2 separate regions of the Homo sapiens genome follow, and region 1 is linked to region 2. Evidence: fine-mapped expression QTL. Tissue or cell type: prefrontal cortex. Region 2 holds a variant in brackets; the other region holds the start of a gene. All regions are shown on one strand. Distances are between the middles of the regions.

What was found.
Region 1: it holds the start of LINC01923, and the variant in region 2 is fine-mapped to the expression of LINC01923 in prefrontal cortex (ROSMAP, PIP 0.95).

What each region holds. Positions count from the first base shown.
Region 1 is chr2:198,367,596-198,383,060 of GRCh38, reverse strand. It overlaps LINC01923 (long intergenic non-protein coding RNA 1923), which reads left to right and starts at 7,964. Exons shown (of 3, transcript NR_110267.1): 1 at 7,964-8,178; 2 at 8,444-8,585.
Region 2 is chr2:198,295,167-198,310,631 of GRCh38, reverse strand. It overlaps LINC01923 (long intergenic non-protein coding RNA 1923), which reads left to right. Exons shown (of 3, transcript NR_110267.1): 3 at 8,816-11,269. Among named protein-coding and RNA genes, the nearest start is that of LINC01923, 72 kb to the left of the region's middle. RefSeq lists a silencer at 633-927. The variant A/G (reference allele first, on the strand shown) is at 8,876.

The DNA of each region.
Region 1 (15,465 bases), 72 kb before region 2:
TTAGACCTCCTGGGCACAGTCCCAAGAGACAAGCTGATGTCCTGATGTTTCAAAAACAGTAACAAAGAGAAATGAGGTTTCCAACCACCAGTCTTTTTTCCATTTTAAACACACAAGTCTTGGAGTACTGATTTTAACCATGGCAAACCCATCCTCAGCCCACAGTCTGGATATCACTGGAAGATACAGGCTCTGTCAGACTAGCACCTCTTCATGTCTGGGATGAATGGTGATTTTGCTTCCAAAGTGTTCTGTATTTCTATGTTGCACTTCTCCAACCCTCCAAAATGTCATAGCAATTCATTGGTTTATTACAGCATTGCTAAATGGAGACCATATGAGATGCCCATTCCAAAGCCAGCCACTAGCTTTGGTAGCCATTTATATTCTCCCTTCTGCCTTCCCCTTTGGAAAAGTGTCAAAGGTTCAGTTGGACCCATAGTATACAGCAAACACTTAATTGCCTCCTGTTGGGAACAGTTTCCTCCCTCCTGCTCCATGTTATTCTAGGTACCATTTTACATCTGTTTTCTTCTCCCACCTAAATCTCAGTGTTATATCATATTAGATAAGACAGTCTACTTCAGGAGCTTTTCTTTATCCCTTATCGGCCTTATATATTAGTCACTATTCTTTCATACAATGGGATTCAGAAGAAGAGCAACAAAAAGGAGTTGACTTTTTTCCTAAATGGAAGAAAAAAACCTGTCATTTTGAAGTCATGCTGTCATGGTATCACATATAGCATGCCTCTATTATTGTTGTGTAATGCCTAGAAAACGAAAAGTCTATAGTCCTAGGCATATGAGGGCAAAAAAATAATAAATAAAAATACTCCCCCCTCACTAAAAATTAATGCAAATGAAATGCAGATCAACAACACAGAAGCCTTGGGCTATTAAGTGTGCCCCTTCATACACAATGTAGGCTTGTTACAATACAGAAAGCTACAGACCTCGTGGACACTCCCAAATACCTGCCAAGTCATGCTGTCCTGGAAAAAAACTATAGTCAAGACGAGAAGAAACAACTCTGTAAAGATAAACTCAAGCTCAATTTCAGAAATATGGCCTAGCTCTACGAAGAACGAGCTGAGAAACACATCTGTTATGTAGCAGGCAAAGAATGGTGTACATGTGCAAAAGAAAATGCTATGACAAAGGAAGAGAGGTAAAGCTGAGAATAGCAAAATGCATGCTTCCAGTCTAAAAGACACAGAATGCATGAATGCTTCTTCTTGCACAGGAAAAGATCTCTTCATTTTTATAGCCAAACTTTCAACAAATATTCACTTAATACCACATGCTGGATCCATAAGACATACAAAGTTCTGTGGATAAGTTTCTCTTGGCACCAGGCAGAGGTAACTTTGATTTTAGTTTCACTATTATCAAGTGCCTTTCACAATGTGTTAATTTCACAGTTGTCTTTACATGTTCCTAAATGGTTCTCCACAACTATGGAGGGCTTATGAGAAAAGAAATCTACCTGTCTATGGACAAGTTCCCAATATAGACCAAACCGTATATACGACTTCCAGGGAGCAGAGATTATATTATCATCAGTCATAAGTATGTACCTATAAAGGTTGGGTCATCATTCTCCCCCTCAAACATGACCCAAATTTGTGCATGTCAGTTCTCACAGCCAGTGCATGCTCTTAATATTGAACATGAGGAATAGAAAGAGCCCCATGTTTGAAATTAGACAAGAAAACTGGACAATGATAACGTATGTGGGATAGTGTCCATGTATATTAAATTGTAACAATATTGAAAATTTTATTTCCAATAAAAGAAATGTCTTTTTAATTCTGTTAAAGTAAATGATTCATAGGATGCCTGCAATGCCATTCCTGATCAATTCATTGTTTTCCTTTTTATCTCCAGTTGCCAAGTGTATAGAATGTGACTTCGTAGATGGATGGATGGATGGATGGATGGATGGATGGATGGATGGATGGATGATTAGCTGTGATTAATTATATATTTGCCTCTTAATATTTATTCATTTAAATTACCAAACTTTCCACTATTATCTGAAATATATTCCCTGACATTTTTTAAGAACTTTATTTTCTTCTCTTTTATTAATTTTCAAATGCTACATTTCTTCCACTCTTCCACAATCCAGTACATTCAGGATTTCTCAGCTCCTAAAAAAGGGCACATGGAGCCCCTGTTGCACCTCTCCCTACCATTAAAGACTTGGGTTTTAATACTTTCCATTCATGCATACATCTTTCTATCTGCTTAAGTCCTATCAACAAAATTAAACATCTCTCCTAAAAGCTGCCTCTGCCAAGGGCTCTGATTGATTTTTCTCTGCTAAATGATCAAGTAATAATGATCACTTAATCATTCAAAGACTTCTTGATGACTTGTGCCTAGAGAGCCAAGGCAGGGAAGCTCCTTCATGCCAAGTGTCATCTAGTTGCTGTGCAGGAGCTGAGTAATGTCAGTGGCAAGCCATGGCAGGGGAAGAAAATAGAAAATTGGTGTATGTAACAGCATTTCACAAAGGTTAAAAGCTCAATGTAAATATAATGTCATCAGGAAAAAAACAGGTAGCTTAGTGGTTAAGAGTATGGACCCTGGCAACCATCTTCCGGGGTTCGTCATTCTGGCTGGGTCACTCACTAGCTGTGTGACCTTTAGCAAGTGACTTGCTGTCTCTGTGTCATAATTTCCTCTGTAAAATGAGTGTGATAATTGTGCCTACCTCTTAGAGCTAACGAGATAATTAAATTCATTGAGTAATGTGAAGTGCTTTGAATAGTGCCTGGCACAAAGTACTCAAATGTTAACAGTTATTATCATTTTTATTATAATAATTATTTTTTATTATTATTGCATTGAAGATGGAACAAAAAGGAAAAACAAGATAAAGAAAAGAACATAGAAAAGCCCAGAATGGGGAGAGTGAAAAAACATGGCACCAGCTTTTGACAGTCAAAGGCTGCTTTGTGCTATCATGTTGTGTTTAATTCAAATCTATCCCCCACCCCACAGGTACAAGGAAAACTTATGAACAAAGTAGTTCACTAAAATTCTCAAAACAATATGTCAATGGCAAACCTCCTAACTTATTTTTCAAGAAATATTCATTTTCTGCAACTGCCTAAAAACTAAGTAAAATGTCCCATTTTCTTTAAGTATAAAATATTAGAAATATCATCAACTCTTCAGTAGCTTACATCTTCAGATTAACTCTACAACCAAAACTTCTTCCTGTAAGTAGCCCCCAAAATAGTCTGTTTTTTTCTTTATTCCCCAGTCAAAGTATCAGTCCAGGCTCTGAATACTCCTTTACTTTGAAATCTGACTTTTCTAAACAACAGATACTGAGAGTTTTATTACTCTTCTACGATGCAAAAATATACATTACTTTCTTCTAGAAATTCTATTGCCTTATGTAAAAGGATGACTTTCCTTTCAATGTTCACAAGGTTTGTCTTCAAGTGGACCTAAATTCTAACATTTCTTCAATCTTTCTTATCTGACTGTTCTATTCTGTTCTAGTCCTCTCTATTGTACTCTCTTTTGTTCAAAGAATCCTTTATCTCCTGTTTTCAACTCACCAACATTAATCTGATTTTACCACCTACATTTTCAGTGCCACGCTTGTTCACATTCATTTGACAGGTATTTATTGTGTGTCTACTATTGTGTATCCTAGCATTGCAGATACAGCAGAGAATAAAAATAGACAACATTTCTACTCTCACATAGCTTATGTTTTAGCTGGGAAAGGCACACAACAAATAAATAAATATATAATGTCTAGGTGGTAATGGGTTTTAAAGAAAACTTAAGCAGACTAAGAGGACACCCACTAGAGGCAGAACTATCTAGACAGCTTGGTTAGAGAGGGCCCTTCTGATATGATGATATTTGAATAGATGTCTGAATAAGGTGAGGGGGTAAAAGATGTAAAAATCTGATGTATCATCTTAGGTAGAAGCCCAGGTATCAGCATCTTTAACATAAGGAAAATTACTTAACTTCCATAAGCCTCAGTTTTCTTCTCTGTAAAATAGCAATGATGATAACACCACTGTTTTGGGGTTATTGTAAAAATTAGAGCTAATGCCTGTAAAAGATTAGAAAAGGACCCAGTGCAATAAATAATCATCATTATCTCACACGGCTATGTAAGAAAGTTTAAAAATTTAGGATACACCAACAATACTTTCTGAAAATTTAGGATACACCCATAATGCTTTCTGAAAACTACCTAAAAATCATTTCAGAGTTTATAGCAAATTAAGTAGCTTCTTAAACACAAGTCTGAAAAACCAACAAATCTCTGAGTCCCAGTATTCTAATTTTCTAGATGTAAGATCTTGGGAAGCTTATACAATTTCTCCAAATTTGAATTTCTTTGTCTGTATAATGGGTTGTATTAAGGCCGAGCACAGTGGCTCATGCCTGTAATCCCAGCACTTTGGGAGGCTGAGGCAGGAGAATCACTAGAGCCCAGGAGTTCAAGACCGGCCTGGGCAACATGGCAAGACCCCATCTCTACTAAAAATATAAAAAATTAGCCTGGCATGGTAGCATGCATCGGTAGTCCCAGCTATCCAGATGGCTGAGGTGGGGAAGATTGCTTGAGCCAGGGAGGTCGAGGCTGCCATAAGCAGTGATAATGCCACTGCACTCTAGCCTGGACAACAGTGTGACACCCTGTCTCAAAAAAAAAAAATAAAAAGTTGATGTATGAAAAAGGCCTAGCACAATGCTTGACCTAAACAAATGTTGATTTCTTTTTCCACAGCTTTTTCTACATTTACTTAGATAGGGTAGCACAATTTGTTCATATAATTTGATGCACATAATTAATTTCTTCATATAATTTGATGCATGGAATTAAACAAGTTACCTTTTATAGATGAAATATTTAAAGGTGATCCCATATGGTCACAATAACCTTGAGGTTATTGGGGTATTGGGAGAAGGCAGAGAGGAGCAAGAAAATTAAGTAGTTGGCCTGTGACCAACTGCTTCTACCAAATACCCCAAAAGTAGCCTTTTACAGAATTTTTCTCTATTAAAAACAAAAAAGTTTTTCCTCAAGAAAGTTTGTTTACGTCAGGAGAGATTTATCATTTTACCAAAAGTGGGGAAGTCCTTGAAAACACCCAAAGTTTTCCTTACTAAAAATTCCTCATGAAGTTTGACTTTCCTAAACTCCCAAAATTCCTAATCCCATAAAAAAAATGGCCCCCAAAAGGGGAGGGGATGGTGAGGCCTCCAAAAATTACTACATCTTCAACTATCTGGCTGAATGTTGAAATAAAAGATTTTTAAAATAAAAAATAAAAATTATTGCATCCAATATTGATTAAAGGCAAAAAGACCAATGTATTCAAAGTCAACTGAAGAAAACAAAGGGTGCAAACACAAGATAAAGTAGCATCACTTTGAGGAACTAATTTAAACCAGAAAGCAAGCTTTGAAACAGAAAAGACAAAATACAATTCAAATCCTGGCTGAGTTCCAAATTTGGACATAAATCCTTTCACAGATGATATGCTAAAATGGGTTTGTTCATTCAGCAACTATTACGAAGAGCCTACTGCATGTCAGTTATCTCTCTGGGCACTGGGGAAGCAAAAGCAGACACAACAGACAAAACCCCTGCCCTTTGGGGCGTACACATGGATGGCGACAAGAGATGATACACAGGTGAGAGATATGGCAAGTCAGATGGTGATAAGTGCCATGGAAAAAAATAAAGCCAGAAAGTTGTGTGAAATGCCGAGTCCACTAGGGAGGGTTGCTTTTTTTGTTTTTTTTTTTTTTAATACAGAGTCTTGCTCTGTCACCCAGGCTGGAATGCAGTGGCACAATCTTGGCTCACTGCAACCTCTGCCTCCTGGGTTCAAGCAATTCTCCTGCCTTAGCCTCCCGAGTAGCTGGGACTACAGGCGTGCACCACCATACCCAGCTATTTTTTGTATTTTTAGTAGAGACGGGGTTTCACCATGTTAGCCAGGCTGGTCTTGAACTCCTGACCTCAGGCAATCCACCTGCCTCGGCCTCCCAAAGTACTGGGATTACAGGTGTGAGCCACCGCGCCCAGCTGAGGGCTGCTATTTTTAAGAGTGGTCAGAGACACCTACGCAGTACATAGATGACTTTGGGGAAAGATATTATGCAAGTGAGGAAGTGAGTCATGAAGGTATCAGGGAAAGGAGCACTCTAGGAAGAGAAAATAACAAATCCCTTGGAGGCAGGGATTTTCCTGGATTATCAAGCAAGTGCAAAGTGGGACATGTGGCTGGCGTGAAGTGAGCCAGGGAGCAGAGTAAGGGAAGAAGCCAAGAGGCATCTCAGAGGTCAGATCCAGTAGAGCCCTGGTGTCATTAACAGCACTGTGGCCGTCACTCTGTTCCGTAGAGAGCCACTGGTGGGTTTTGAGAAAGGGACTGAAATGAACTGATATTTAACCTCTATGGATTTGATGTCGGTGTATTGGAGTGAGGAGAAATGGACACAGGAAATGATGACAGCGGCTTGGATTACTGTCTTAAAACTGAGGTTTTATCCTGAGAAAATTCCCTTTTCTAAGACAGGAAGGACTGTTAAGAAGTGGCCTGTTTTGTGAGATTAGGATGGAGATCAGTTTGAGAAGCCCGTTGGACATCCAAACAGCAATGTCCAGTGAAAAAGAAGTTAAATACACATGCCAGGAGTTGAGGGAAGTAGTCCTGGCTGGAAAGAAAAAATTGGGATTTTTCAGAATATAGACAGTATGTAAAGCCTGAGAGATGAGATTAACCTAGAAAGCGAGTGTAGAGAGAGACACCTGAGCTTCCCTGGGTTCAAGAAGATGAGATACAGGCTGGGTGTGGTGGCTCACACCTGTAATCCCAATACCTTGGGAGGCCAAGCTGGGAGGATTGCTTGAGTCCAGGAGTTCCAGACCAGCCTAGGCAACACAGCAAGATCCCATCTTCATTTAAAAAAATATATATTTTTTAAGCTTTTTAAAAGAAGATGAGACACAGCTAGCAAAGGAGTGGAATAAGAGCTGCTGGTGAGGGAGGAAGACAACCAGAGCCATGTGAAAGAAATCATTTAAAGAGGAGTGAGTGATCCCCTATGGGGAAAAATAAAATGCTGCTTCTATGTCAATCAAGATGAGGGCTGAGTCACTGTATAGGAGGCAGCAATAAAAAAAATAAAGTAAAAGATGAGGGCTGAGGACTGACCATTAGGTTTAGCATCATGGAGGTCCTTGATTTTAGGAACAGAGCATCAGTGGAGCAGGAAAGGAAAGAAGGAGGGGTGGAAAGCCTAGGACATCAGATACAGACAGCCCTTTGAGAGGTTCTGCTCTAAAATGGACTGAAAAATGGCCAGGTGCGGTGGGGCATGCCTGTAGTCCCAGCTACTCGGGAGACTGAGGTGGGAGGATCCCTTGAGCCCAGGAGTTCAAGACCAACCCAGACAACATAGTGAGAGCCAGTCTCAAAAAAAATAAAATTAAATAAAAAATAAAATGAATTGAGAAATGGAGAGGCTGCAGGAGAAGTGGGGTGAAGAGAGATAGGAGAAATTACAGCAGAGAAAGGGAACGTTTGATGATAAGGAAAAGGACGAAGCAACTGCTGAAGTGGCATCCAGTGTCAGGCTCCAGAGGAGTGAGGGGCTCTCTGATCAAGAGGAGGGGCTGGTCTCAAAGAGGGTGAGTAGAGTACAACCATGGTAACAGCAGGACGCAGAAGCACTGGCACGGAGGCAAGTAAGAGGCTGAATGTGGAAAGTCAACCCCCAACGTGTTGGACCAGTTAATGCTGCTGGTCTCTCTGAGAGGTAACTATGGAAATCTATAATAAGCCAAAGCAGCTGCACCCACAGCTGATGTGAACCTGGAAGATACAGCCATGTGAGAGGACCACGTCATTATTATGGAAGGGGTTCTTAGAATTGCCACCCAAGTAGATTCTGTTGGAGATGGGAGGAGAAAGGGAGGAAAGGGAGTAGAGAAGGCCACACACAATCTTAAATTCAATATTTCACTCCCGTTAAAGATAAGCTGTTTATAAGCTCCAGTGTAGGGCATGTAATTCTATGTAAAAACTCTGTGGTTCCTCTTCCCACATGTAAATCATGATCACTCTACATTCTGCTCTCTGGGAGCCCTCAAGGCAAAGAGACAACAAGACTCGAGGTATAGTAATAAAAGTCTGGGTATTATAAAATCCACCCTGAGCTCCAAGAAAAGAATAGAAAGAAGGAAGCTCTGAAAAGTACTAATTTACCAAAGTTCAATGCAGTTTTGTAAATTTTTATTAACATCCTCGGAAATCCAAATGCCCATCTTGAAACTGAGGGTTTTTTTCCTCAATTATGGCTATATATGCTTTAAAGATAAACTATGAATTCTCTTTAAACTAAGTGCCTTGATAAAATAATGAGTATTAAATACATTTCAGACCACAGAAAGGACTTATCACAAGTCTTTGTGGTAGCTGAGGAGTGCCCCCTACAGACTGATATGCACAATGCAAGCAGATGAAGAGGAAAGAACTGAGCAGCAGTATTTCAGGATTCTCAATAAGGCATCAATGAAAAAAGGTAAGAAACCTTTGCTGAACAAAATGTGACACTAAAGGCTAGGAAATATATGGACACTATGAATTCTTGTTTTTACATATTTGTAAACAGCAAGAAATGAAAAACCTTTGTTTGGACTTTTCTTCTTTTTGACTCTCACCACCGATTGCCCGCAACTGAAGAATGTATTAGTAAAGTCTGTTTTGTTCTTTGGTTACTTCATATCAATATTTGAATACAAATGAAAATAGTAAAATAGTAAAAAAGATATTTTATTCTGCTGTGCAAAAACAACTACCTGGATTCAGAAATTATTTACTTCAGATGTCGGCAACAAAAATAAAACGTAACATATCTATTAAAATGAAGTTAAATGAATTCTAGTTTGAGGTTTTATTCCTTTTTGTAAAGACTCCACAGAGAAGTATTTGCCTTCTATGAATGTTATCGCTTAAAATGTTTATGTTTTTCAAACTAAAAATCACAAAAAGACATGAAAAACATATCCTATGTTTATGAATAGATTTAAAAATATATAAATCTATAAATGTCAAAATATATTACTACACTAAGATTCAATATTACACACTATATAAAATATATTACAATAATATTTGAGAGGCAGAAAGTTATATAGTATATAACCTCATCATAGTTAATAAATTTCATACATAACAATATATTCCAGTTTAATTTTCCATTTGTAAGAGAAAGGAGACAAAATATAATTCAAAACCTTTACATTTTTTATTAAAGATTTTTAGAAACGAATACTGGTGCAATTTAAATGTACCAATATGTTTGATGTCTTTAAGTTAAACTCAGAATTTTATAAATACTTAGCAATGGACAGAATAGTATTTATCCAAATTAACAGCCTTTTACATGATCTTTGAATAAATGTAGATCTTTGGAAAAATGCGTTTAACATCATAAAATGTTCATTTAGACTCAATTTCACATACACTCAGGAGATATACATAAATGTATGTGATTAAATTGATAAATTACACTTCCAAGCATTTTCATAAAGAATGTTTTTCACACTCAGAAAGAGACAATTAGGGTCATGTTTTGATGGCTTCTTTTTCTTATGGAATTTAATAAGATATAATCAAATATTTATATATTGCTTCTTCTAAAATTTTTTAAATTGCATAATAATGAAATTAGAAAATATATTCTTTCCTGTAGGTAATAAAAGCCAATGTACTTACAAAAAACTGCTTGCTATATTAATCTTCCTAAGTGTTCTGGTTATTGACCTAATAATCACAATTGTCTCTTCTTTCCCTCTTCTAATAATATATACATGATGCATTCAGATGTTAAAATGCAGCACTTGTGGAAATGTCTGTTAAAAAATATTAACATATAGGCCCCAAAAATGTATAGTACATTCGAATTAATGAAACTGACTGTTTTTACATGTAATTAACCTCTTGAATGCACTCACTCTCATTATAGAATCCTTGCCAAAATGCAGTATTGCATTTTGGAAGGAATGAAGGGGAAGGGGAGGAGAGGGGAGGGGAGAGGAGAGTAGGGGAGAAGAAAGAAGGAAGAGAGAAAGAGGAAGACAGAGGGAAGGGATTAGGCAGGTCAGCCAACTGATTTAGGTAAATGAATCCACGTTTATAAACATGCACGTTGTAAAATTAACAATTTTCAGAAGAAAGGAAATAATTTACAAGAATAGCATTGATTCAGAAATAAATGTTATTATTCCTAGATAACAAATACAAATAAAAAATCAAATGCCTTAAATATACAATGTTGATTATATGGTCTTATCTTGTGGAAATGTACAAAAGTACAATTAAGATAATTTTGAATAAACTTTTATTCAAATTGAAAACACAATTTTATGTTGCATATACTCCTTTGGTGTTTAGAAGATATCATAAATTCAGTTACTTCCTTATGCCCCAGAAAATGCGGATATTTTTTAGAAAGGCTATTGCTTTCATACTGTTTCTAACATGAAAAACGCTACCTTTTTTGGCTAATACAAAGAAACCACAATTAACAGTGAAACCATAAATACTTTCTGTGTTAACCACAAATGGCCTTTCCCATAGAGAAATGGCTTACATGTGTTCTAAATGTGTTTGGTTTCGTTTTGTATGGAAGGAGCTGTGGGTATGTTTTTATCTAAGAAAAGAATATGGCATGCACATGCACAACTTTCTAAAATGAGAAACACTCATTGAATTTAATCGGAGTTTCGTCTGGGGCGGAAATTCAGAATTAAGCTCCATGGGTGATGATTTTGGATTATCTGGACAGGACTTCAGGGTCTACTTGCCAAACTTTCTTGGACTCTCAGTGCAACATGAGGCAGAAGGGAGCTTCGCCTGTGTCCTATTATTGTATCTGGTGTAACCATGGGCCGATCTCACCAGGCATAGCCTTCACACACTTTCACTTTATCAGTTTCGTTTGAGTCAGTCCCATACTCAACTGTCCACTGCTCGTGACTCTGCTCTGCTTGAGTCTTTTGTGTGTGCCTGTGTGTGTGTAACCGTACCTCATTTCTTCAGTATTACACATCCTGTGAATATCAGGGAGTCTATGGAAATCTACACGTTGATGCTTGAGTATTACACATCCTGTGAATATCAGGAAGTCTATGGAAATCTACACATGTTGATGTTTATAATCATTTTTCTATTTGAATATAACATGTGCTGGGTCATCTTTATAAATGATGGCAACACTCTGAGAATACATAAGAAAGAGAAAGTTTCTTTCAAAAATGTGACCTTTGCTCACTTCTATTACTGAGTCTCCTTGGAAAAGATCTAAATGGAAATTAAACCAAATTTTTGTTTTGTAGTTTTTCAGTGGTCATATATAAAATAAAAAAATGAGGAAATCAAATTTAACAAATGAACAACTCAGGATTTGTTCAGAATACTCTCTACCCAGTTGAATTTATACCCACAAAATAGCACATCTAAGCAAAAAGATTTTCTCCATAGAAAGCATTTTTTAGAAAACTTTCTGTAAATACGTACCCCACTAAAGATTCATCTAGTCCTCTGTTATCTTAATAACCTATAGAACTATTCCAAAGAATAAAAAGGCAGCCTTCTTATCATTTGCAAGCTTAAGACAATAAACTGAACATTTGTTTTCTCATTTTGTTTACTTTATATGTGCTAAGATGATTACTAATTTTAAAAGAAGAAAACTATAATCTTCGTGGCCCTGTAAATTATTTGATTTTTAAAAAGCTAAGTATTCATAGCATTGAAACTAGATTTTTAAAAAAGAAAACATTCAGTTCAGAAATAGTAATAAAACCCTTGTTTGACATCATGTAGACAAAGCTATTAATTGACCTATGAATTTATTGCTTTTATGTGAATTTGTGATTAATTTGAATATGGTTGTAAGTAATGCTAATGATCTGTGATTCAAAATTAGGGTTATTTTGGTTGGTTGGTTGATTTGTTTTCATGAGGATGAGGCCTGGGAGTGTGTGGAGGCATCAGTGGGGGTGGGTCCCCTTGCCTAGAGGGAGATATAATGGAATTATCCGCAGCTATAGGTCTTTTTCTACCAGAGTAACTGTCCATTTACCCCCTTATGTTGAGCTATTAAATATACATAATAAAACTTGGAAAGTCTTTTATTCTGCTTTCACCCAATTACATTTTTAAAAATGCATTCAAATATATACAGTCAAAAAACGTGTATTAGTCTTTGGTATGTAGGCTTCTCTGTAACTAAGATAGCTACCTATATTTAAAATATTGTCAGATATATACTACTAAAAGGGCATGTATCATCAGATATACTCTTATTTTGATTACAGTTTAAAACTTGATTACACTTAAAAACCTAAAATATGTTCTTTGTGAGAATTTTCAATATTTGGGGAATGAATGGCCACCATGGGTGAATGTTGAGAATTCTTTTGAAAGGAAATTTCTTACATTCATTTTATAAATCAGGTGAATGCAAAAGATAAGAGTGTATGTTTTTAATACATACAGTTTGATTACAGTTAAAAACTTCAGACAAGGTACATAAAAGGTACAAGGTACATAAAAATAAAATCTTAAACTAAGGAGATAAACCATAAACACTTTTGGCTAATCCTAAGGTGTTTCTTAAAAAGGAATTTTAAGGTGATTTTTTAAAATTCTAGAAATAATCTTAGTGTAAGATGGTGTTATAAGATATTAGAAACCTTAAAAGCTGCCTTATAACACCATCTTATACTTCTCAATATATTTCCATTTACCTTTCCATCTGCAATACTAACAAAAGAAAACAAATATAAGTGCATCACATATAATCAAGACCATTTTTACTATCACATGAATATTAAAACAATAATGTCTTACAAACAGCATCAGTCTTATAAATGAAGTTTTAAAAACATACACTCTCATCTTTTGCATTCACTTGATTTATAAAATGAATGTAAGAAATTTCCTGTCAAAAGAATTCTCAACATTCACCCATGGTTGCCATTCATTTCCCAAATATTGAAAATTCTCATAAAGAACACATTTTAGGTTTATTGTCAACCTCATTTGATGTTTCTTAAAGTGAGGTCCATGAACCACTTACATCACAATTTATTTCTGAAACTTGTTAAAATGCAGATCGGAATCTCTGAGGTGGGGCCTGGGAATATTCATTTAACCATCCCTGAAGGGCTTCTGACACGTTCTGATGTTGGAAACACCTTCAAATGGCAGTTGCAGGAGCACAGGGCCTTATTAACCTATCTGTCCCCTGCACCTGGGCCTGTACCTGGCACAGAAGTGCGCTGAGCAGAGTGTAGTTGAGACGCATAACTGGCCTGCTGCTTGGATGACCTGAGACCACAGCAGTCCTTCTCAGCTCACAGCTGGTCAGGGTAGGTGCCTTCATCCTCAAGTTCCCCACAGCATGCACCACGCAGCCCGTTTGGGATGCATGGGCACCAAGGAACCCTCGCTTTGTGTGTTACTGAACTGACCTGACATTCTAACCAGAAAATAAATTCTTGCAGGAGAAAGATTTGTTTTGTTTCTTTTGTTCATTCAACATTCATGGTATACATGTTTATTGAGCACTTACTCCATGCCAAATGCCATGTTTAGAACTGGTATGGAGCAAGAACAAAATAGACATATTTTTAGACCACTGGAAACCCCTTGACTCCTGGAATGGTTCTCAGGAGGGATAATCCTGTACCTAAGTGGCAATTTAGACTTATAGTGTGTATTTCCATCTACTAGAATAGTGGTGTCAGAGCATTTACAGCTTACATACATAGTATCTCCTTATATACTTCCCTTTTATATTTCCTACATATTACAGTTACAACATCATAGATCCTCTTTCAATGATGTGCACAAGTAGGTAAGTATTATCTGTTAATTTCATTTAAGATTACTATATTGGGCATCATAAAATATATTTTTGTGATGGATAATTGGGTATAATATGGTTGAAAACCATTAACTTGGTGAATTTTTTAATATTAACTTGAAGATTTCCTTAGCACTAACCAGAGAGATATTTCCAAAGTATTTATAAAAACACATAACTTAACAGATTAAGTAATATAATTTCACTGTGCTGTAAACTTTCCTTTAGTCAATAAAAGCTTTCACATAGTTCTCAGATATATGCATCAGTGGTCTGTAGTTTAATACCATGTCTACATGACTAGGTGACCAAGAGGTTTCATGGTTTGTCAGCTAATTAAGTTAACTATGGCCAGCACTTACTATATCACCCTGAGAACATTCTGACCAACTAGGTGGTGACCATTGACTAAATGACTTTTTTAAAAATCAAACTGCCCACATTAATGTAACTATACTACCTAGACTCAGTTCCATTCCAAAGAAGCAAGCAAAAATTACAAAAAAAGTAGGTGAGATTTATCCCACAAGGAAGGAATATTCTTGATATTTTCTTACACTTGAAGGACAAAGAAAAGAAATGAAAATTACTCAGATGCTATTAAAAAGCAATAATAATTCTATACCTTGGGAGCTCTTTCCTTCATTGAATTCTAAATCACAGAGACACTAACAAAGTTCTACTTTCTTTCTATGAATGATCATTACTGCAATATCTTTAAATACTTATTCTGGCTTACACTGATGCTAAAACAACAGCATCTGATACAGCCCTTGTATTTGTAATTCAGGTATAGCAGGAGTAATCCATCTTTGGCATTAGAAAATATGCTTTATCAGCAAATGAAGAAGGAAAAACGACACCAAATGATGATAAAGGAATGACCCAGAGTAGTTCCATTGAGCTTTTATCACCATACTGTGTGAAGACCATCACTGTATAAGGAATGGCTTTTCCCACCTAAGCCCTCTCCCTCGAGTCAAACTTGTGTTTCCCTTTTAATGAGCAGTAACCACCAGGATGCCTATTACTTAGCTTGCCAGAATGACTACAGATTTATAGGAAAGAGGTAAAAGTAAACACAAATAATTTAAAATGCATTAAGTAGGAAATGCCTTCTTCAACTAAACTATGTTGTACATTTTATCAAAAATGTCAGAAAATATTTGTAAATCTTATATTTTCCTTTCTACAAGAAAAGTGGCACCCATGTCACTCAGTTCAGCAGTGTGAACAGTTGAATGAAATGGAAAACTCTTAAAAGTAGTGAGTAGCTTTTACTAAACTAAGAGTTCTTGAAAGTCAAAAAAAAAGGTTGTATGAAGTGCATCTTTTTCTTAAAATTATTTTTTCAAGACTTTTGATTACCTGGGCCACCATCAATTTACTATATGCATTGATGTAACCATCTATTTTCACTCAACCAGTAGAAAGTAGAAACAATGGATGTAATGTGTTAAGACAAAGGCCTAGGACAGTGGGACATGTTAGGCCATAAACATGTATATATGTGAAGTGCAGAGTT
Region 2 (15,465 bases):
ACAAGCCACGGAGAGCGGCCTCAAGAGAAACCAATCTTGCTGACACCTTGATCTTGCACTTCTGGCCTCCAGAACTGTGGGAAGATAAATGCTATTTATTTAAATAGCATTGTTTAAGCCACCCATTTTGGCTTATTTTGTGATGACAAAAGTATTTCTTTATAGCAGCCCTAGCAAAATAACATATAAGCCAAACATTTATAGGACCAAAATGACTTAGTTCTTCCTCATGCACGGCAAACTCTAGTTCCTTCAGTTATCATTTTGTGTCCTCTTTTTTCTGGAAGTCTCAGCCCTAAATTAGTCCCTGAATCCTCTAGACAAAAACTCACTACTCTTTTCCTGTAACAAAGGAATTTGTATGTATGGGTATGTGTGTGTGTGTGTGTGTGTGTGTGTGTGTGGTAAATATCCCATAATCAAAAACTGTTTCCTAGTGAGTTACAGAGACAAAATGCTTGAAAAAGTATGTGCCATCTTGTTACATTCTCTTAATTCTCTTTAGAGTGAGTACAATAAAGTAAAACTTCATTATATCATGGAATATAGTTTGTACAAAATAGTACTACTTCTACATTGAAAGATTAGTTCTGCCTGGATCCAGTACACATGTCATATTTCTGGAAAGTCATTTGACACGAATCAGTCTAAAAAATAAAACAAGCAGGTGCATAATATATTACCCAGAATAAAATAAACATGGCTTCATTTGTAAGTGCCAGAGTATTCGTCCATTAAATCTCCATCAGCTACTGCATCTTTGGCGCCCTCTTGTGTCCATTTTGGGATAGGTTTTTTTCGTGGAATTTGCGAGCCATTCACCCCACGGCATCTCTAATTCAATCCCTCAAAAATGCAAGCGAGCACTCGATAGAAATCAATCTCTCCTTTGTCTACATAAATTATACCAATTGTAAAAATACTATTTGGTTAAAATATATATTATAAGGTTTCAAATTTTAAGTAAACATTTCTATACCCATTTGACTTCCTGAATATTTGAGCTTTTTTCTGTAGATTATTATAGAGAAAAGTTTTTTCTCTTGCTTTTATAGTTAATAGGTATTCATATTTATTTGTTGATCCTTCAGCATTTTAGTTCTAAAATGTAGGTCCCTTAGGTATCCTTTAAAAATTAATTTTTAACTCAGATTTCCACTGAAAAATATTATGTAAAACATTTTTACAAATCAAACCATAAAGCATGTTCTCTGCCATGACTATATCTGTACAGTTTTGTTTGAGATACCAATTGTTAATACCATCATTGCTATTTCCACCAAAAAGATGAATAAATATAAGCAAATTCCCAAAACATGACTTCATGCAGATTAGCTTAGTACATTGGTGATTACAGTACAAAGGTCACATTGCGTGTTAAAGTTAATTTCCCCAATTCTGATCTAATAAGGCATCCACCTTGGTTATTTCCTTGTTTTGTATAGATATCATAAAATATGAATTGGCATCTATATCACAAATCATCTGGGCCTATCCCTATTTCTCATTACTAACATTTAGTTCAAATACCATTCATCAAAATCTAACCACCCAATTTACATTTATACTGTATTCAGATAAATAACCATGTTCATCTGGGGCATGGGCTTTATTTCTCCTGAAGGCATAATTAGGGCCAGGCGTGGTGGCTCATGCCTGTAATACAGCACTTTGGGAGGCTAAGGTGGGAGGATGGCTTGAGCCCAGGTCAAGGCTGCAGTGAGTCATGATTGTGCCACTGCACTCCAACCTGGGCAACAGAGTGAGACCCTGTGTCTCAAGAAAAATTAAAAAATTTAAAAATAAAGGCATCATTAAATTCCCCAAGTAAATTCATTAAAATTTACTCCGTAGGCAAGGGACTGGCAAACTGACAAATAAGGACTATTTCAGAAGTTTCCAAAAGATGCAAGGCAAAATAAATACCTCATAAGTCATCAGCGAGATGGACAACTGTTGAGAACAAACAGAAGCAACTTTACGCTGGAATCAGCAAAAGCTGCTGTGAGGTAGAACAAGAACGTTTGACAGCAAAGTGTGCACCAGCCAGGGACCTTGGACAGATCATCACCAGCAAAACAGGGATAATTCTTACTGTATCCATTGTTAATGGGATAGCACATAAGAAATACTTAAAGAAAAGGGTATGAGTAAAAAGATGCATTTAATGAATTAATGCAGTTTAGATATTTAATATAGGGTTAGAAGCAAATATACAAATAATGCTTTTATTCTTAGAAAACATCTTTATTCTTTCAGACTCTGAGAATTAGTCTAAAGTTGCAGATAAGTACAAAATTACAAACACAAAGCCAGAATTCACCTTTTTGTGGGGGAACATGGGAAGAAGGTAAAGCAAAGTGTCTGTGATTTTGTATCAACCTGGTTAGGCCACAGTGCCCATTTGTTTGGTCAAACATTAGTCTAAATGTAGCTGCAAAGGTTTTTTTTTTTAAATAAACTTTGAATGAAGCAGATTAACCTCCATAATGTGGCCGAGTCTTATTTAATCAGTTGAAGGCCTGAATTCTACAGCAGATTTTGAAAATGCCAATATTCATAACGGCATGAGCCAATTCCTTATAATAAATATTTCTTACACACACTCTCTTTCTCTCCACACACATACACAACACACACACTCACACACACATCCTTTTGGCTTTGTTTCTCTGGAGAACCCTGGCATACGTAATCCATATGTTTTATAAATATTATATATATTTATATTTATATATATATCTTACACATACTCTGTATGCATATATATGGATGCATGTGTGTATTTCTCATAGAACAAGGTCAAAAGTATCCTTGACAAGGGTACTTTTATAAATAGGTTATAGCGTTCTGGCAAAGCGGGAATTAGTTGAGGATTAAGATGTTACAACCTTCTCCAGGCCTGAATGAAACTATGGCCTGAGATTTTCTAATTCCGCAGGAGCTTGCCTCACCCTAACCTCACTGCAAGGTACCAGGTGGGTCATGCACCCCTCATTACACTGAATCTGCCCCTCCTCCCCTCTCTACTGTCACTCTCTAGCCTGTGACCTCCTTTGCCTATGACAGTGTCCTCTCTGGTCAGCCTTATTCCAGTCCTCCCCACACCCTTCTCCCCAGTGCAACCACCACCTTCTCGCCAGAGGAATCAAATCACATCACTCCCTTAAACCTTTGGGTGGCTGTCACTATGCCTCCCCTTTGTCACTGTCATTCTTTTAAAACATAATTACTTGTATTTCCTCAACCACACCCCCATTGTGTACTACTACACGCCTTTACAGAAGTGGCTACCGCTTCTTGGAATGGTCTCCTCTTGTCTTCTCTTCTCCTTCTCATGCAAATCCAGTACAAGCATTGCTGCGTCTGAAAGCCTTCCCAGCCAACCCCTCACAGCAGAATTCACCACTGCCTCTTCCAGGAGGCTGCTTTGCATTGCATCCTGTGATAATAATCAGCCCCTAGTTGATTCATCTTTGCCTACCAAGCACATGGCCCAGTGCCTGGCACACAGTGGGCCCTTGCAGAGTGATTACTTGAGAGAAGTGAATTGAATTCACCAGATGCCTAGGTGCAAGCTGCCATCCTGACTACCTATTAGTGAGAGGGCTGCAGGGGGTGGGGAAGGTGTCTGTTCACATCCCTAGCTGGAGCCAAGGAAAAGATCTTCCATCTTTCCTTGAGGAGTGGTCAGAAAATCTAAAGTTAATGATCTGGTGCCTGCCTGGCTGGGACAAGGGTCACAGGAAGGCTGTGCCTGGGGAGTGTGTAGGGCTGGAATTAGGGGATAAGAAAGAAGACAGGATATCCTGGACTGACAGAGGAAGTGAACTCAAGAAAAACAGAGGCCATCAGGCCTGAGTTTTTGAGAGAAAGATCTGGAGTAACGGAGAACCTGGGAAGTGGTAGCACAAAATAATGGTGATGATAACAGCAGCCATAAGCAAGACTGAAATAGAATGTGTGACAGAAGTTCAGAGGTAGCAGGAAGAGACAGTGAACGAGAAGATACAATTGGAAAACCTTCTGTTGATGGGCGAAGAGCCGGCAAGTGGAGAAGAGGGTGGCGGGTGAAATATTTTTGTTTTTAAATCAATAACTTGTCTTAAAATGACAACTGAACTTGCTATTAATTAATTTTCATACTCATCTTTTTTTGTGTGTTTGTTTTTAGTTTAGTTTGTTTTGTTTTTTGAGATGGAGTCTTGCTCTGTCAACCAGGCTGGAGTGCAGTGGCACAATCTTGGCTCAAGGGATTCTCCTACCTCAGCTTCCTGAGTAGCAGGGACTACAGGCACCCGCCACCATGCCCAGCTAATTTTTTGTATTTTTAGTAGAGACAGTATTTCACCATGTTAGCCAGGATGGTCTCGATCTCCTGACCTTGTGATCCGCTCGCCTCAGCCTCCCAAAGTGCTGGGATTACAAGCGTGAGCCACCACGCCCAGCTTCATATTCATCTTTCATAAAAGCTTCTTTGGGAATGATAAGCCCTCATATGACACAACTTGATCCTCTCTTTGAAGTGTCTATGAATTTTTCATGGCTTCCAACATTAATTATATTGTTTTATCATCACTTCTCTTTTTGGAAACACTCCTAAAAATGTTTTAGAATGTGGGCATGGAAAAAAATTACATTATCTTAAATTACTATGAATGAAGAAGGTAAGAACATTCAAGGAAATGGCAAAGAGGGAATTAAATGCAGGTTTTTTCCAGGTAACTCCAGCAAACACTAACAAAGGGATGACTTGAGAAATCAATAATCTGGTTCTTCTTTGCCTATAGAATCAAGTTGGTTCAAAAATGGAGCCAAACGTTTTACATTAAGAACAACTGGCATACTAAAATAATTATTTATAAGTAATAACATGTTAGTCTGAAACTTTAGATACCAGTCCTGACTCTCAGGACTGGGAAAACGCACTTGGCCCAGCTCAGAAGCCACTGAAACACTGTGGGTTTGGCACCTCATGTCAAGCCCAATCCCTTTGCTATTTGAGTTCATTTATTCTTGGCAAAATATAACTTCCTGCCCCTAAGAAGAAAGATTTTTAAAGTCTCATAAAAATGATTCCAAAGTTTACTTGGACTTCAAAAGGCTCTTACAAAACAACATTTTTATTAGTTAAATTTATGGAATATGGTGCATAAGGATTACATTTTCTTTTATCTTAAATAAATAACAATTAGGGCAAAACCAATGGGATGTGGAGTTGGGAGAAGCTTGGCAAAGAAAAAATCCACAGGGGACCACTTTGCCATGAGTTACAGGAAAAATAGAATCTCCAGAGAGGGAGTGTGCTCTCTCTAGGAACTCTAGAACTGGGACGCAGCTCAGTTTTTCTTCAGATCATCAAAGCCCAGCGCTTACTACCAAGGGAGATGTCCTTACACTAAGGTCTCTGTATAATAGCTCACATCAGGTCTGGTCCGATACCAGAAGGCAAAAAGAACCTGATAATGTGTATTGCTGACATCTTACTGGGTGCTCATGTTCTTCAAAAGATGAAAAGACCGAGTTACCTTCTCCAGTAAAGGCTGAGCACCAGCAGGAAGAGCTGAGGTGTGAACAGGAAAGCCCCAGGTCATGAGTCTGCCTATTTTCACAGCCTGGGCAATACCCAGTCTCAGAAAGAAGATCCCAGGAATGTGGCTCACGCCTTCCCAATGCCCACTCTACTTGATTATTAATCTTAGATTTTAAGTGCTGGGTTAGGTTAAAAGTCTTGAAATTTAGCGCACTAGATTTATTTAGTATAATAGATCTTTGTTAACCCAGCATTCATTGTGTGACTTCCTGAAGATGCCAGATTGTTTAGGAAAGCAAAAATCACCATAACATTAAGTGTTTACTAGTAATCTGACAACTTATAAAAATTAGTCCCCACTCCAGGAGTGCTCCTGGCTGGGTCCATCCCCACATAAAGCCAAGGCTTTGTTCATTAATTTTTCCCCAGATAGTCTGCTGTTGGAAATGTTGAACAGTATAGTGCTACATGCTGCAAATTGATATAAGTCTTGCAAAAGATGCAGGCTTTCACGGTGCCAGTGAAAGTGACGTTGGTGGATCTGCTGGAATTGCAGGCAAAGCCATTCCATATCCTGCCCTGGAGGTGTCTAAACAGACAGCTGCAGAGAGGGACTGCCTAGGGCCCCAGGTGTGATCACGGAGAGCCTGTGCCAGCAAGGCTGATGGCTGAGGAGGTGGTGGGGAGGGGAAACTCAGAATTGGTAAGCGAAAGGAAAACACTCAGAATGGGTTGGGAACATCCTGCAGGTACCAGAAAATGAGGATAATGTGAAAAATATAGTGACAATGATTAAAAAATCAAAGGATCTGACTTAAGGGAATTCTCATGGAAAAGTTGTGATAATTCAAATATTAAATAATTATTATTGTTACATTATAATTAAATAAAAATAAAATTAGTGTTAGGTATAAAATAAAAATAGTATTAGGTAATTGGAATGATTTGATCTATGAAAGATTGAGTTCAAAATCAAAGTCAAAGGAGAAAAGCTAAAAGAAATAGTAAAAAAAAGGAAACTTATAATACAAAAGAAGAATGAAAACAGGATTTATGTTTGTCATTATTTCATGAGGTAAGGGATGTATATATGCCTATATGTATACCAATGTACATACATATGCATATATGAATTATATGCACAAATTTTGCTGCTATATTAGTTTATAAATATGTGTGTATATAATATATATGTTCAGGGTAAGTAGAAAAGAAGAATGGACAGAATAATTGGGAGTGAGCTGAACTAACACAGAAATAGAAGGAACTCTATCAAGAACAGGAAGGGCTGATCAATATTCTGGTCTTGTATAATAACCAGCGGACCCACATTTAACCTCTGATGGTCACACAAAATGACCAAGTAGAAAGAAGGCTCAACAATGTGCTGCAAATGACAAAACAGAAAGAGGGTCCAAAGAGGAGGGCTCATAAAGCAGACTGACTTCCTCATCTCCTAGGAGCCAAAACCTTTAGATAACCCACAAATTCTTATAATATACTAATAAGGAACACACACGTCTAATGATGCTAAAAAAAAGTAGCTCAGTGAATCATAATGTTAGGACGATGGCTATGTACTGGACCATGTGAAGCTGGAAGGATACCTTATTTCTGGGGAAGACATCTAGTTTCAAAAAATTAAAGCCTATATCCCCGATGAGGGCTGAAGACATAACAAGAAAGCCCTGATTATTAATAGACACTCAACCTAATGATCAGTGTGCAGGCTTGAAGCTCCTGAACTAAATAAGCAGGTCTCACACCCACCCAAGAGTTTTGAACTGGACAGCCAAATCTTGTAACTTCTACTGGTCTGAGGCCACATCTCTTTTTACTTTGGGTTAGTAAATGTATTGCTTACTGAAAGCCTAAGGAGGCAACCTCAGGAATAAATGAAAATGAGGATAAACATTGTGGTGAAAATCAAGATAAGGATAAAACTGTCTGCTTAATTGTTCTAGTGGTAAGTGTGTTGAGCACTTTTAGAACCCTGGTTAGTTTGTGTTTGGTCTGTTTTGAAAGATTTTTAATCTTTGTAAGGTAATCTGATCTGTTAAACTTGTGATTTTTTTTTTCTTAGATGGGGCCATGCTCTGTCACCCAGGCTGGAGTGCAGTGGTGTGATCTTGGCTTTGCAACCTCCACATCCCGGGTTCAAGTGATTCTCCTGCCTCAGCCTCCCAAGTAGCTGTGATTACAGGTGCCCGCCACCACACCTGGCTAATTTTGTATTTTTAGTAGAGATGGGGTTTCACCATGTTTACCAGGCTAGTCTTGAACTCCTGACCTCAAGTGATCCACCCACCTTGGCCTCCCAAAGTGCTGGGATTACAGGCGTGAGCCACTGTGCCCAGCCCTAAACTTGTGATTTTAATTGTTTAAGAGTGTTTATATGTACAAGTATTATTTACATGTTGGGGGAAAATTTCTTTTTAAAGTAAATTCCATAAGTAGTATGTTAAAATTTAGTATAATTGCTTATTTTTTAAAATGCTAGTCATTTGATTAATAATTAAGATTAATGAAGTATTATACAAGTGATCTCGTATACCCTTCCACACTCAAAAGGCCATTTCATGGAGAAGAATCTATCTTTGCTCATTCTAAAACTATGCAAAGTTGTAATCTTTACTTATTTTTTTAAGTATAACTTATTTTTATACATTTCATTCCCTTTTCCTAGGTAAAGTTTCTCGTAAATTAGCTTGAACTTCTTGTACATCAGTTTATGTACAAGGTAGCCTGGGATGGATCTTCCCCCTAATTCTATTTCCAATACTTCCCAGGTCAAAACTTTTTAAAACATAAATAGGGAAGGACATAGCAACGGCTTTTGTAGTTTCTTTTAGAAGGCAGAGCTGAGCAAACTTTTCAATGTATCAACATGAAAAGACATGGCTGGCCAGGTGCGGTGGCTTATGCCTGCAATCCCAGCACTTTGGGAGGCCGAGGCAGGTGGATTGCTTGAGACCAGGAGTTCAAGACCAGCCTGGCCAACATGGCAGAACTCCATCTCTACTAAAAATACACAAAAATTAGCCAGGTGTGAGGTGCATGCCTGGACATTCAAGGAAATGGCAAAGAGGGAATTAAATGCAAGTTTTTTCCAGGTAACTCCAGCAAACACTAACAAAGGGATGACTTGAGAAATCAATAATCTGGTTCTTCTTTGCCTGTAGAACCAAGTTGGTTCAAAAAAGGAGCCAAATATTTTACATTAAGAACAACTGGCATACTAAAATAATTATTTATATGTATTCTATTTCCAATACTTCCCAGGTCAAAACTGTGATCCCTGCTACTTGGGAGGCTGAGACACAAGAATTGCTTGAATCCAGG[A/G]GGCGGAGGTTGCAGTGAACCAAGATCATGCCACTGAACTCCAGCCTGGGTGACAGAGCAAGAGTCTGTCTCAAAAAAAAAAAAAAGAAAAGAAAAAGATATTGCTTAGAAAAGTAACTTGAGTCCTGTTGAGCCTAAGTAAAGGACAATAATGGAAGTTTCTAGTCTGCAAAATATGAAGATGCCCCTCAGAGACACAGCTGTGGGTGCCTCTCACAAGACAGATGTTCAGGAAAACTGGGCTGTTGCTCTGGAATTTTCAATGAGTTATTTTACTTGTTTTTGCCTCAGTTTACAGAAAATAAACTGGCAACAATATCTCCTTGTTATTGTGAGGATAAAATAAAAGGTGTGACATTTCTATTTTAAATGTATAAAATGCCGAAAAATTGGAGGCAACTGGAAGGTACAGTAGTGGATGTGAGGTAGTAAGGGGGAAAAAAGGATATGTAAATCACCTAAGATGAAATAGACATTCAGAAGGCCGTAACGTGAAGTGTGAGTGACACTGATTCGCTAAAAATCCTATATAGTGTCTTAAAACAGCAGCAGTAACAACAACAAAGTTTATTTGAGAGGAGGAATTCTGGAAAAAAGCTTCTTTCAAAAAAAAAAAAAGAGTCTTCTAGTGCTCAGACAGTTCGTTCCTCTGCAAAGGCGGGTTACTCTGTTGGGGTCCATTATAGTTCTGAGGATGAATAGGACAGGACAAGGAGATGGTTCCTGGCCCCTGTTCTCCTGCCACAGATCTGTCCCACCTCCCAGGCTCCATGCATACAGTGACAGAGATGGAAAGCCCAGAACCAGTCCCTTTAATGCACTTATTTGCAAAACAAGATGTCACTATGCAGCAGAGTGACAGTCCTTTCCCCTGGAACTGTCCCAGAGTTCTCCAAGCTGAAGCCAGGGCTACATTCACCATCTCAGACTCCTGCTGAGCTAAGTAACCACCCTCTCCTACCTTCTCTTCAGGAGCCCTGGCACCCTTGCTCTGGGGAGAGTTTGAAGAGCAACCTGAAAGTTCCCACAGTTTTTCCTCAAATCTGGGTTTCCATGAGCATGGGCCACCAGTCGGGAGAGCCACATGCCTGCCCTTGCCTGGCTCAAGACTGTCACTCTGTCAGATTCATATCGCTCTCTGACCCTTAGCCTTCCAGTCTGGATCTTGACCTTGAACTGGACTCTGTAGGAAGTTCTTAACATTAAAGGAAGTTATTTATCTCTTTTCAACTAACCCAAGCACTTTCTAGCACCTTTTAGCAGTTTAAGCTCTATGACTCCATTGGATAAAATGCTGGGGAGCAGGACATTGACACAGTCACAGAATATCACACACGGAATCCTCATTCATTCCCCCAGGGAAACAGCACCTGTAGAAGACAAATCTGGTAGACACTACTGTGACAGGTGATTTTATATGTCAGCTTGACTAGGCCACAGGATGTGTAGACATTTGTCAAATTTTTTTTTATATGTCTGTGAGGATGTTTCTGGATGAGATTAACATTGAATCAGTAGACTGAGTAAAGAAGACCGCCCTCCCCAGTGGGGGTGTCCCTCATCCAACCTGTGGAAGCCCTACATAGAACAAAAAGGCTGAACCTCCCCCAAAATACGGTGATCTCAAGCTGCCTGACTTCTGGTGCTGGAACATTGTTCTTTTTCTGCCTTCCGACTCAAACTGAAAATCAGCTCATCTTGTATCCTGAGTCTGCTGGCTTCCAGACTGAACTATACATTGACTCTCCCAGGTTTCCAGCTTGCAACTGCTGGTCTTGGGACTTCTCAGCCTCCATAATCATGCATTAGCCAATTTCTATATAGATCTAGAAATTCATATATATATATGTGTGTGTGTGTGTGTATGTGTGTGTGTGTGTGTACGCATATATATACAGTCATGAATCACTGAGCAGTGGGCATACCTTCTGAGAAATGTGTCATTAGGCACTGTTATCATTGTGTGAACATCATAGTGTACTTACACACACCTAGACGGTATAGCCTACAACACACCTAGGCTATATAGTATAACTTGTTGCTGGTAGATTACAAACCTGTACAACCTGTTACTGTACTGAATACTGTAGGCAATTGTAAAACAATGGTAAGTATTTGTGTATCTAAACATAGCTAACCATAGAAAAGGTACAGTAAAAATACTGTATAAGAGATAAAACATGGTGTGCCTGTATAGGTTGCTTACCATAAATAAAGCTTGCAGGTTGGAAGTTACTCTGGGTGAGTCAGTGAGTAAATGATGAGTGAATGTGAGGCCCTTGGACATCACTGTACCCTACTGTAGACTTTATAAACACTGTACACTTAGGTTACCCTAAATCTATTTTAAAATTGTTTTCTTTCTTCAATAATAAATTACCCTTAGCTTACTGTAACATTTTTACTTGACAAACCTTTTAATTTTTAAAATTTTCTGACTGTTATAATAATACTTAGCCTGAAATACAAATGAATTGTCTAAGTGTACAAAAATATTTTCTCTCTTTATTTTTATTTTATGAGCTCATTTCTATTTTTAATTCTTTTAACTTTTCAAAATTTTTTATCAAAAACTAAGACTCAAACACACATTAGCCTAGGCCTACAGAGGGTCAGGATCATCAACATCACTGTCTTTCCCCTCCATATCTTCTCCCACTGGAAGGTCTTCAGGGGCAATAACATGCAAGAACTGTCATCTGTGATAACAATGCCTTCTTTTGGAATACCCCCTGAAGGACACACCTGATGCTGTTTTACAGTTAATTTTTTTATATTAGTAGAAGGAGTACACTACAAAATAATGATCGAAAGTATAGTAAATACATAAGCCGGTAACATAGTCATTTATTTTCATTATCAAGGACTATTTACTATACACGATTGTATGTGCTAGATTTTTATATGACTGTCAGCATAGTAGGTTTGTTTGCACCAGAATCACCACAGACACAAGAGTAATGCATTGAGTTATGATGCTACAATGGCAGTAACAAGTCGGCTGATAGGAATTTCTCAGCTCCATAATAATTGTGCAAGACTGCCATCATATATTCACTCTACTGTTGACCAAAACCTCATTATACAGCATATGACTGTCTATATATAAACAAAGAACCATATTTTTGAGGAATTTTAATTTTTTATTTAAGAGTAAAGTGTAATAAGGGTAAAGTGTCTGTGATTTGTTTAAATTCTTCAGAAAAAAAGGAAGAAAAACAGGATAGAAAAAACAATACAGCAGAATCTTGCTAAATGAGTGATGCCAATGTCGGCAAGTTGGGTGATGGATACATTGGGGTTCACTGCAAACTTTATATTTGTGTATGTTTGAAAGCTTTTATAATAAAAATTAAATACAGTATATATTAAATATGTATGCCACTTAGCACTTAATCAAAATTTTTTATCTCGCCTTGTTAGATTTTATTATTTTATCTTGAACAAGTAGCATCAACATAGCCTGGGCAATATAGTCAGACCTCGTCTCTACAAAAAATTTTAAAAATCAGCTGAGCAGGCTGGGCGCGATGGCTCACGCCTGTAATCCCAGAACTTTTGGGGCCGAGGCGGGCTAATCACCTGAGGTCAGGAGTTCGAGACCAGCCTGGCCAACGTGGAGAAACCCCGTCTCTACTAAAAATACAAAAAAATAGCCGGGCATGGTGGCGCATGCCTGTAATTCCAGCTACTTGGGAGGCTGAGGCAGGAGAATCGCTTGAATCTGTGAGGCGGAGGTTGTGGTGAGCCGAGATCGGGCCATTGCGCTCCAGCCTGGGCAACAAGAGCAAAACTCCATCTCAAAAAAAAAAAAAAAAAAACAGCTAAGCATAGTGGTGGACCACACGTAGTTCCACCTACTCAGAAGGCTGGGGTGGGAGGATTGCTTGAACCTGGGAAGTGAAAGTTGCAGTGAGCCAAGATCACGCCACTGAACTCTAGCCTGGGTGACAGACAAGACCCTGTCCCCCCCCACCAAAAAAAAACTCAATATAAGAAGTATTGCTGGTGAACATATAGTGCCCTGCACCTAGAAAAATGAAGCTACTTTCAAGAGATTAGTAGGAGAAGGGATCATTGATGATCCCTTGAAGCCAGGGTCTTAATGAAATTTGGAATGGGAAGCAGCTCAGTTATTAAAAAAAAAAAAAAAAAGATACCCTTGCTGGCACAAGGACGAAGGGTAAGTTATCACTTCCCTTTTTCTAGTGTTAAGTAAATTACATTTAACAAAGATGACTCTTGTCAATTTTGTATCACTTTGACTCTTACGTACTTATGCAGTAAGTTTCTTAGCAGCACTGCTTGCTATAACTTAAACTAGAGAGTTAATAGCAGAAATGCAGCTGTATCTGAAATATGCTACAACTACTCCTCTCAGGAAGGATTTGGAGGAGTAACTTTTAAATGCTTGGCTCAACATCTTAAAGACAAGTTTCTGTTAAGGTGAGAAGACAACAGTATAGAATGAAAAGCTTACACAGCTGGATTCTAAGGCTGACTCCCCAATTAACTAATTATGTGACTTTAAACCAATCACTTACTTTCTCCAACTCTCTCCAGGGTTCTTTGTTTTTAATGAAATGGGCTGGTGGGTGAATTGGACTCTTTCAAGGAGCTCTCCCAGGACAAAGACATGGTCATGCATATTCACCAGACCATATCCAGCATCTAGCACAGCTCCTCAAACATAAGAGGATTCCAATTCGTATTTTAAGAGAACAAAAAAAACCAGAATATCAAATAATTGGTTACATCCAAAAACCTGTCAATCCGGAAAATTTCTCACATTCGTCTACCTCCTTGACCTGGATCTTTTCAGGTTTATCACGTTTTCCCCCAAGAGAGCCTCCAGAAGTGAAGACGGCGTATAATGCAATATGACCACTAGATGGCAGCACGAACCCACCTCAGAATTATCCCTAAAGCGGCCACAGACCCTAGACCAGCTGTTTCAACTGAGCCTGCACAACTGAGCAGACTGTGAATAGTTAAGACTGCCTTGGCTGGTGTCTTTCCCTATACCCTTCCTTTTGTTTTAATTATAAGAAATCTATATGAGTTTCACTATTGATAGGAACATAAATGATCTGTTGTTTCAGCCCTAGGATATTGATATTGCCTTTATATAAATTGTTGATATTTTGTTCATCATGGATTTCCTTTCATTAATTTTGATTAATGCAAATTTTAAGTTACTTTCACCTTAGTCCTGAAAAAACAAGACTGCTTCCAGGGACCATCAAAATAATCTTACAGAGAGACTAGGTAGTATGCATCTGTGGGAGATGCATCTGTGCACACTGGAGACCTCCAGTATATACAGCAGGAGCTCAGTAACAATGTTTTTCAGTGAACCAGGACAAGGATATTCAGTGTATGGGTACTTAAAAAAATGAATGCATGCTCAAAAGGTGAGACCTTCCTTTCCTACTACATGTTTTTTTTCTTTCTTTCTTTTTTTTTTTTTTTTCACTAATTCATGGTCTTCTTCATCACCTCTCTCCTCCTCCTTCCAGAGCTCCATCTGCTTCCCTGGGTACTACATTGTGAGACACTTTGCTCCCTTCCTTTTTATTTATTTATTTTTATTCATTGATTGATTGACTGATTGAGACACGGTCTTGCTCTGTTGCCAGGCTGGAGTGCAGTGGTGTGATCACAGCTCACTGCACCCTTGACCTCCTGGGCTCAAGGGATCCTCCTGCCTCAGCCCCGAGTAGCTGGGACTAAAGGCACCCACCACCACACCCAGCTAATTTTTGTTTTTTTGGTTTATTTGTAGAGATGGGGTCTTGCCATGTTAGCCAGGCTGGTCTCAAACTCCTGGGCTACAGTGATTCCCCACCTAAGCCCCCCAAAGTGTTGGGATTACGGGCACGAGCCACTGCACCCGGCCACCCTGCCCCTTTTAAAAATCTCCTTTCTATTCTCTCTCTGCTGGCCCACCTTACCCAGAGAAGTTTTCTTTAGTTCCATCTCCTGTTCTATTTCATTTTTTCTTAGATCCCAGAGGAATTAAGAAGATGGGGTGGCTGGGAAGGGAAATGGGGAGAATCTCAGAGAATGGAAGGATCAGAGAGCTGGAAGCCAAATCTAGACTCTAAGCTCCTGGGGCACAGAACATCCCCACCAGACTTAGCACAGTGCCTTGCACAAAACAGGTGTACAATAAATATCCATTTGTATGGATGATTACTTGTGTTAATTAGCAATGTGCTCATACAAATAATGAAAAGTCATACAGTAATTTTAAACAATGTCCTATATACAACTATTTCAAGGACTCATGCAAGTGACAACATCCATTAACACTGTAGCTAATTACCTTTGTGCCTCTCCTCTCCTCCCAGTAGCTTCAAGTGCTCAACTCTTAAAAATCCTGAAAGTCAAAGGGCAAGCAGATTCCAGGCTCCCCTTGAACTTTCCCTGAGGCCCAGACAACATTAAGGCCATGGGCACTGCCAAACTCTTTTTTACTGGCATTGGTAAAGCATTGACTGTGGGTGAGGTCCAGGACCCAGGGCTGTATTTTTCACAGATGCATCCTGTGCTTGGTATCTTTACTTTGCACCCCCAGATTCACTCCG